Regions from separate parts of the Homo sapiens genome. Here regions 2 and 3 are each linked to region 1. The links come from fine-mapping of genetic effects on gene expression. A gene starts in region 1. Each other region holds a variant in brackets. All regions are shown on one strand. Distances are from middle to middle. Region 1 holds the start of SLTM (SAFB like transcription modulator). Region 2 overlaps SLTM (SAFB like transcription modulator). Region 3 overlaps FAM81A (family with sequence similarity 81 member A).

Region 1 (2,759 bases):
GTATTTTTTGTAGAGACGGGGTTTCTACTAAACCCTGTATCTTGGCCAGTTTGGTCTTGAACTCCTGACCTCAAGTGATGGGCCAGAAGATTTCTAAGGAGTCTTGCATTCTAAACTTCTATTATTGTGAATCCAATGTTGTAGCAGAGACAGAGCTGGATTTGGAATCAGGAGCCTGGGATTTGAGCACAGCTCGGCCACATACCAGCTGTGTGAACATGGGCAAGTCATTTAATCTCTCTAAGCCTCACGGAGATTTACTTGACAGACTTGGGAAGGATTAAGGGGGTTACTGTACGTCAAAGTGCCTTATAAACTGTAAAGAACTACCCTAATGTCAGGTATTCTTTTATAATGTCCAGTCTTCCTTTTTTTTGAGCCAATCAGAAAAAGTAACCTAAAGTGAGTCAGATCTCAGGAATTTAAGTTGTAAAACCAGGAAATACAGTATAGTTAATTGTGCATCATAATCACCTTATGGAATTTATAGAATCGTTTTATTTTATCAATGCTTGCACTTTGATAATGAATAATACAAGGTAAAATTACAAATAGGTACTCACTTGTACAGGCCGATCCTCCATAAGAAGATGCTCACTGTTCTTGGAATCCCAAATTTTGGGGGGCAAAATAGTGAACACAGTATATGATAACGGCAACAAGTACTTATAAGCTAGTTTTCTCTTTCATTGAACAATTTCGTGTTGAGCCATCAGGTCTACCGGGGAGGATAGCAAACCTGAGGCCAACAAGAAAGAAGTTTTCCTGTTTTTCAAGTGAGGAAGGGCAGCCCTAGAATAACCTAAGCTGCCATGGGCAGGGCGATGATGTTTTCTCCTGAGACAGCCAATGAGCCATGTGTCAAAGGCCAGCCCTTCCTATTCTTTGGACTAACAGCCCTAGAACTGCTTTGAGGTCTTTTGAATGGAACTCGGGGAACCTAGTTCGTTGGTGCACACCGGCGACAATTTTTCGATTATTCAGCAGAACTGATAAAGTATTTCCTTGAGAGGTTCAGCGCGCGCACGCGCCCCCTCGGTTTGTGTTGAGTAACGCGCGCACTATGTCATTCAGTGCCCGCACATCGTTGTTGCTCAAGACTCAAGACGTTGCAAGAAAATGGCTAACGAAGCGACGAGAGAACGGCGGCGCGGCGGACGTTGCTGCGGTAGGACGTGCCCGACCTCCCAGTCCACACAAGGGAGCGCACCGCCCAAGTGGCCGCGGCCCGCTCGACCGAGCGCGCCGCTGCCGGTCCCTGCGCCAACGCGCACGCGCGGCCGTCATCCGGGTGCTGGCGGCTGCTGCTGCAGGTTGCGCTAGGGTGGCGGACCGGGGGAGGGGCCAGCGGCTCATTGTGCGCAGCGCTGCGCGGCGCCGGCGGCCGCCGAGGCCTGGGTGGAAGTTGGCGCTGCTGCCGCCGCCCTGCAGCCCACTCGCTGCCTCGGCAGCGCGCTGCTCTTCTAAGATGGCTGCCGCTACCGGTGCGGTGGCAGCCTCGGCCGCCTCGGGTCAGGCGGAAGGTAAAAAGATCACCGATCTGCGGGTCATCGATCTGAAGTCCGAGCTGAAGCGGCGGAACTTAGACATCACCGGAGTCAAGACCGTGCTCATCTCCCGACTCAAGCAGGTGAGGCCCGGCGAGGACCGGAAAGGACCGGGAAGGGGAACTTAGGCCGCGCCTCGGCGCCCCGCTTCCGCCGCAGCCTCCGGCTGCCCGCAGCCGCTGGGACCTGCGGAACGGCATGGTAGGGAGGCCAGGGGCGGCTCCCGCGAGCGTGGAGGACGGGGACCCTTCCGCGGTGCCCCCGCCCCGCGCCCCGGGCCGGGCCGGGCCTGCGAGGGACCGGCCACCGCAGCCCAGCGTGCCTCCGCCTCCCCGGGACGTCCCCGCCAGGCTGCGAGGGTTGCGGCCGGCCGGCGCGGCCTCCCAAGGGCGATCGCGGAGACCTGGGAGGCGCTGGCTCCCCAGCCTTTAGCCATGGTGAGCGTGTGCATTTCTTGGCCTCAGAGGGAATGGTTACTTTGGTGACTTCTGCGAAGTTACCGTTTAATTGTGCCCAACCGTTTCTTCCCCATCTTGAGGGGGAATTGGTAGTGGGAGTTGATGGGTGGGTGACAGAGTTTTTGTTTTCCACTAGGCTTTTAGTTTTTGCATCAGCGCAATAATTACTTTTTCTTTCCTGATTAGCTTTCTGGTTTGAGTGAGCGTTGGAATTGTAGCAGAGGAGCAGTAAGTTTGCATTACAGAAACTAGGAAAACTCTTTTTAGTTATTTACTTTAGTAGCTAGCAACTTTTCTGCAATAGAACATATTTGGATTTTTGGCCAGTATGATGTGATATTTAATTATCTTGACACGGTAGAATTTAAAACTCCTTGCGATTTTGATACCTAATGATTTTTTTCCCCTGAAAGTTTCTCTCACTCTTTCGTGTAGTTTAATTGCTCATTTTTGAAGTCGGTTGATGAAATGACTGGCAATTCTAATGTCTTGAGGCTTGAGGTTTGCTAAATTTTTTTTCATTTCGTTTTTATAAAATAAGTTTAGATAGATTGTGTAGCATATTAACTTCTCTTTCTAATGTAGGCTATTGAAGAGGAAGGAGGCGATCCAGATAATATTGAATTAACTGTTTCAACTGATACTCCAAACAAGAAACCAACTAAAGGCAAAGGTTGTTACGAGTTATGAACATGTTTTAAAATATATTTTGGTTATATAACTTGCCTCTGCTCTTGTGCCTCTTGCCCTGTTT
Region 2 (2,759 bases), 49 kb after region 1:
TATTCTTCTACTGATGAAATACTGGCGTGTGGGTTGATAGTAGCACAGTTAGGACATACTTTCATAAATTATATACCAAAAAGAATTGTGCAGTGTGTGTGTCTCCATTATATGCTGGTGTTTGTTTTGTATTTTAATACAGTGTGTGTGTGTGTGTTGTTGTTTTTTTTGTTTTGTTTTGTTTGTTTGTTTTTTGAGATGGAGTCTTACTCTGTCAAACAGGCTGACATGCCGTGGTGCGATCTCGGCTCACGGCAACCTCCGCCTCCCAGGTTCAAGCGATTTTCCTTCCTCAGCCTCCCGATTAGCTGGGACTACAGATGTGCGCCACCACGCCTGGCTAATTTTTGTATTTTTAGTAGAGGCGGGGTTTCACCATGTTGGTCAGGCTGGTTTCAAACTTCCGACCATCCACCTCTGTCTCCCAAAGTGCTGGAATTACAAGCATGAACCATGACGCCCACCTCCTAAAAAGAATTTTTAAGACTGAGTCTATAATCCAAATAAGTCTGCCTTGTTTATAGTAAAATTTAAGTATCAAAGACTAGCCCTCCGCATTCAGAGGTCCTTTTAGAAAATGTGTCCTGAGGAGGAGATCTTGTATCCTCCCTTGAAAATTTTCTTTTTCATAATGTTAGTCTGTAAATTGTTCTGCCAGTATTATATCTAAGCCTCTCTGTGGGTACCTTCTGCTTTCTTTCCTGTAAGCTAAGTATCACAATGCTTGCTTTCTCTTTCCATAGATCTCTAGTTCTACAGTTTCTGTTTCTTTGTGTTTGCTACTCTGTTTTCCATAGTTATGGATGTAGCACCTTGTAAGTGCCATAGCACTAAGTAGTACAATGTAAAATAAGTTCACAACTCCTGTTTGCTGTGCTGTCTGCATGTTGTCCTGATAGGCTGATCATAGGCCCTGCCGTGCCTTGTCTTAAGGTTTTGATCTCTGGCTGTGCCTTCTTACAGTCAATATAAGATCCAAGTATTTGAAATAATCAAGGGTCAAAAAGCCCTTGGGTGCTAGAAAATACAGAAATACAAATTAATGGCCAGGCCTGGTGGCTCGTGGCTGTAAACCTAGCACTTTTGGAGGCCAAGG[C/T]GGGAGGATTACTTGAGGCCAAGGGTTCGAGACGAGCTTGGACAATATAGTGAGACCCCCATCTCCATAGGAAAATTAAAATTAAAGATGGGCATGGTGGTGTGCACCCTGTAGTCCCAGCTAGGCAGGAGGCTGAAGCAGGAGAATTGCTTGAGCCCCAGGAGTTCAAAGTTGCAGTGAGTTACGGTAGCAACACTGTACTCCAACCTGGGCAACAGTGTGATCATGTCTCCAAAAAAAAAAATTATTTTTTAAAAAAAGGAATTGGCCAGGTGTGGTGGCTCACACCTGTAATCCCAGCACTTTGGGAGGCCTAGGCGGGCGGATCATGAAGTCAAGAGATCAAGACCATCCTGGCCAACATGGTGAAACCCCGTCTCCACTAAAAATACAAAAATTAGCTGGGCGTGCTGGTGCATACCTGTAGTCCCAGCTACTTGGGAGGCCGAGGCAGGAGAATCGCTTGAATCCGGGGGGCGGAGGTTGCAGTGAGCCGAGATCGCGCCACTGCATTCCAGCCTGGCAACAGAGCGAGACTCTGTCTCAAAAAACAAAACAACAACAACAAAAGTATTAAATCATTTCCTCCATACCCTTCCCTGAGACCTGAGTAGCTTCTCACTACAAAATAGATATAAACTCTTTTCATATGCTGCTGCACTACTCATCCTTTTATCTTCTCAGACATCTTATTAATTTGCTTCTGACATTAAAAGCACACCAATATAAGTTGGTATGAGACCAAGACTGAGGGTATTGTGACTTCTCCTTTTTTTTTTTTTTGAGATGGGGTTTCACTCTTGTTGCCCAAGCTGGAGTGCAATGGCGCAATCTCAGCTCACTGCAACCTCTGCCTCCCGGGTTCAAGTGATTCTCCTGCCCCAGCCTCCTGAGTAGCTGGGATTATAGGTGTGGGGTACCATGCCTGACTAATTTTTTGTATTTTTAGTAGAAACGGGGTTGCACCATGTTAGCCAGGCTGGTCTCGAACTCCTGACCTCAGGTGATCCGCCTGCCTCAGCCTCCCAAAGTGCTGAGATTATAGGTATGAGCCACTGCGCCCGGCCAAGTGACTTTTCATATGCTATTCTTTTAGCACTATCCTGAGGAGCGACATGTGGTTGAACGCCATGGACGGGACACAAGCGGACCAAGGAAAGAGTGGCATGGTCCACCCTCTCAAGGGCCTAGCTATCATGATACGAGGCGAATGGGTGACGGCCGGGCAGGAGCAGGCATGATAACCCAACATTCAAGGTAAATAACTAACCAGTTTTTCTGCCAGCACACAACCAACACTTTATCCTTTCCATAAAAGTCATTATAGTTTCTGAGAGACTGAATTGCAACTACTGAAAACCCTAGATCTGCCTGAACATTTCCCTGTATCAACCCGTAGTCTCCAAAAGAGTGTTTGCAGAACAGCTGATATTAATGTGTTAGTTTGTATTCTTCCTTTTAAATGAATTCAGTGACGTTCTGGCAAGTTGATATAGATATGGGTATGTACGTATGGCAGGATCCAGTAAACAATGAATTCTTTTGTTTTGTTTTGTTTTTTGTTTTTTGAGATGGAGTCTCACTCTGTCGCCCATGCTGGACTGCAGTGGCGAGGTCTTGGCTCACTGCAACCTCCGCCTCCTGGGTTCAAGCAATTCTCTCA
Region 3 (2,759 bases), 590 kb before region 1:
ACGCAGAGAAGCACACTTAGTGAACCAACAGAAGAGGGCCTGAGCTGCTGGAACCTGTTCCCTATGAATTTATGGCACAATAGGTGCCAAAAAATTAAGGACCTCTTGACTGTTAAAAAAAAATCCATGTAATTAGTGGCTACTTATTAGTGCAGCAAGCCTCAGATTTTACATTACAATCACCTGCAGGACTTGAAGCAATTTGGTGCGTCCGTCTCAGAGCCTCTGATTCAGTAGGTCTTGGTGGAGCCTGAGAGTTTTCACTTCTTTTCTTTTTTTTTTTGAGACAGACTCTCACTCTGCTGCCCAGGCTGGAGTGCAGTGGCGTGATCTCGGCTCACTGCAACCTCTGCCTCCCAGGTTCAGGCAATTCTCCTGCCTCAGCCTCCCGAGTAGCTGGGATTACAGACATGTGCCACCACGCCCGGCTAATTTTTGTGTTTTTTGTAGAGATGGGGGTTTCACCATGTTGGCCAGGCTGGTCTTGAACTCCTGACCTCAGGTGATCCGCCCACCTCAGCCTCCCAAAGTGTTGGGATTACAGGCGTAAGCCACCATGCCCACATGTACACATACCCGATTCCCCACTTTCATTTCTTTTGGGTAGGGAGCTCCACTTCTAAGCTCCCTCACATGTCTATTGGAAATTGTCAATTCATCTTGGGCCATTTTTGGTTCAGTTCATCTCAAAAAGTTATTTTGTCGTCCCTATAAATCCAGAGCTAAAGGACCTCAGCAGTATCCTTTTATAGAGTAGACACTGCACTGCAGGCCCACCTGACTGAGACTCAGAGTCCAGATTCCGGCTGGAGCAGGAAGTCGGTAAAATGTCCCCCAGTGACCCCATCCCCAGGTGTTCAGCCCCTTGTGTGATCCCCTCCCGCTGTGTGTGTGCTGGACTTGCTTTTCATGAAGAGACTAGTGGAAGTGGTGGCTTGTCACTTCTGAGATTAGGTTACAAAAGACTAGCTTCCTTCCCGTTCACCCTCTCTCTCACTGGTACTGG[T/G]GGAAGCAAGCTGCTGTGTTGTAAACAACCTGTCAGGAGGGCTGTGTGGCAGAGCAAGGGACTGATGTCACAGTGCTTTGTGATTCTTTTTCCCCCTGAAAGCCTAGTGGGATAATTACAACTTGAACGGAGCCATCTTCTCTGTTCTGCTCTACACTCCCCTACACAATCCATCTCCCGATGTGCAGAGCCAGCCAGGGACCACGACCTAGGACAGCCCAAGTGCAGGGGATGAAATGCCTGTGATCCTACAAGTCCTGTGGCACCAACTGCCCCCCACCTCTGGTGCCTCCACATTGATACAGCCAGGGGAAGACGTTTGACAAGCTAATTAGATTGCCTCATTACGTATTTGGAATCGGGGCATTAAAAAGCGAGGGTAGTCAGATGGCAGGAGGCCAAGCTCATATAGATATGGCTGATGTCAGTGGCCTAGCAAGTCACTTATGTGGGAAGCCAAAATGTCTTCGGAGGTAGTGTGGTATGCTGGTAAGGCTCCCAGAGTGCGGAAGTAGGCGGCCTGGCTTGAATCATGGCTCCCATTTATCAGCTATAGGACTTGGGGCAAGTTGCTTAACCTTTAGGTGACTCTGTTTTCTCATCTGTAAAATGGGGAAATGGTATTGAACTCAACTAGTTAAAATGAAAAGAGTTGACATACACAGGGGACACAGCACAGGCACACAGCACACACCCGAGAACTGCCAAGAGACAAGAAGGCTGCAGAGAAGGCCCTACAGCCCCGAAGCCCACAGACCAGCAGCTCCCAATGACATTCCAGTCGTCAGAGGAGCTGCCAGGACTTGAGCACTTTATTTCAACCATCAAAGCGTTTCCACAGAGAGCAAACAGAAATATTTCCTATGGCATTTTACCTAATTAAGTCTTCAGCTCAACACTGAAAGACTTTTCAATTTAAAAATCATACACCACATTTATGTGAAAATTTTATTTTTCTTTTTATTGCAAATTTCTGGTAAAGGAAAGAACATGGAAGCTGATTCTCATTTGAGCTTTGGTGAGAAGAGAACTGCACTGTGGCTCGACAGCTCACCACCTCGGCTGCACACCCAAACACGCGGAGGCCTCGGGCACGCACTGATGCCTGCGACCCACCTCCCAGAGGTTCTGACTTAATCGGTCTGGGAGGCACAGCGGGGCATCAGTAGATTTCCCAACTCCTCTGGATGATTTCAACATGTAGCCAAGGTGAGCACACCTGCGGTGGCTCATCTCAAGGGGCTGGCAATGTCAGAAGCACCTGAGAAGCTCAGCTGACAGCCAAGTGTCACCTGCTTACATCACTCCTTGGCCAGAGTCCAGCTGGTGTTCCCCGCCTCCCTCTTCCCAGGTGTCGATGTTCTGATTCCTTCTCCTCAAAGACCCCACAAGACAGAGATGCTGGAGGGGGTGTGGCTTCCTGTGCTGTGGTTTGTGCTTAAACGTGGAGAACCACATGAACCACGTGTACGCTACCACAAAAGAAATTCACTTTCTGATTGCAAAACAGCATTCGCCTTTTTTTATTTGTTAAGTGGAAATTTGTGGCAAAATAAGAAAATATGTGTTGGATAATATAGTCCCTATATAACCTCTCATGTCCAAATTTGAAAAAAAAAATTGTCAAGCCATTGACAGCAAAATATGTACTTTAGCAGCATATTTTATATGGGTAAACAGTAATAGCCAGTTAGACACTTCATTTGTGATTTGTCCTAAAAATAGAAAATGCTTTTTATTTTCCTGAGTCCTT

The links. PIP is the estimated chance that this variant, and not a neighbour inherited with it, causes the effect.
Region 2: its variant is the best candidate, but not a certain one, in a credible set for the expression of SLTM in blood mononuclear cells (TOPMed, PIP 0.87).
Region 3: its variant is the best candidate, but not a certain one, in a credible set for the expression of SLTM in whole blood (TOPMed, PIP 0.89).

What each region holds. Positions count from the first base shown.
Region 1 is chr15:58,932,275-58,935,033 of GRCh38, reverse strand. It overlaps SLTM (SAFB like transcription modulator), which reads left to right and starts at 1,355. Exons shown (of 21, transcript NM_024755.4): 1 at 1,355-1,630; 2 at 2,591-2,678. The coding sequence starts at 1,469. RefSeq lists enhancers at 909-998, 1,019-1,158, 1,449-1,688 and silencers at 1,189-1,368, 1,739-1,998.
Region 2 is chr15:58,883,220-58,885,978 of GRCh38, reverse strand. It overlaps SLTM (SAFB like transcription modulator), which reads left to right. Exons shown (of 21, transcript NM_024755.4): 20 at 2,193-2,353. Among named protein-coding and RNA genes, the nearest start is that of SLTM, 49 kb to the left of the region's middle. The variant C/T (reference allele first, on the strand shown) is at 1,097.
Region 3 is chr15:59,522,737-59,525,495 of GRCh38, reverse strand. FAM81A (family with sequence similarity 81 member A) reads right to left here. Exons shown (of 9, transcript NM_152450.3): 9 at 1,941-2,759. It also overlaps the pseudogene RPL21P114. Among named protein-coding and RNA genes, the nearest start is that of FAM81A, 86 kb to the right of the region's middle. The variant T/G (reference allele first, on the strand shown) is at 1,007.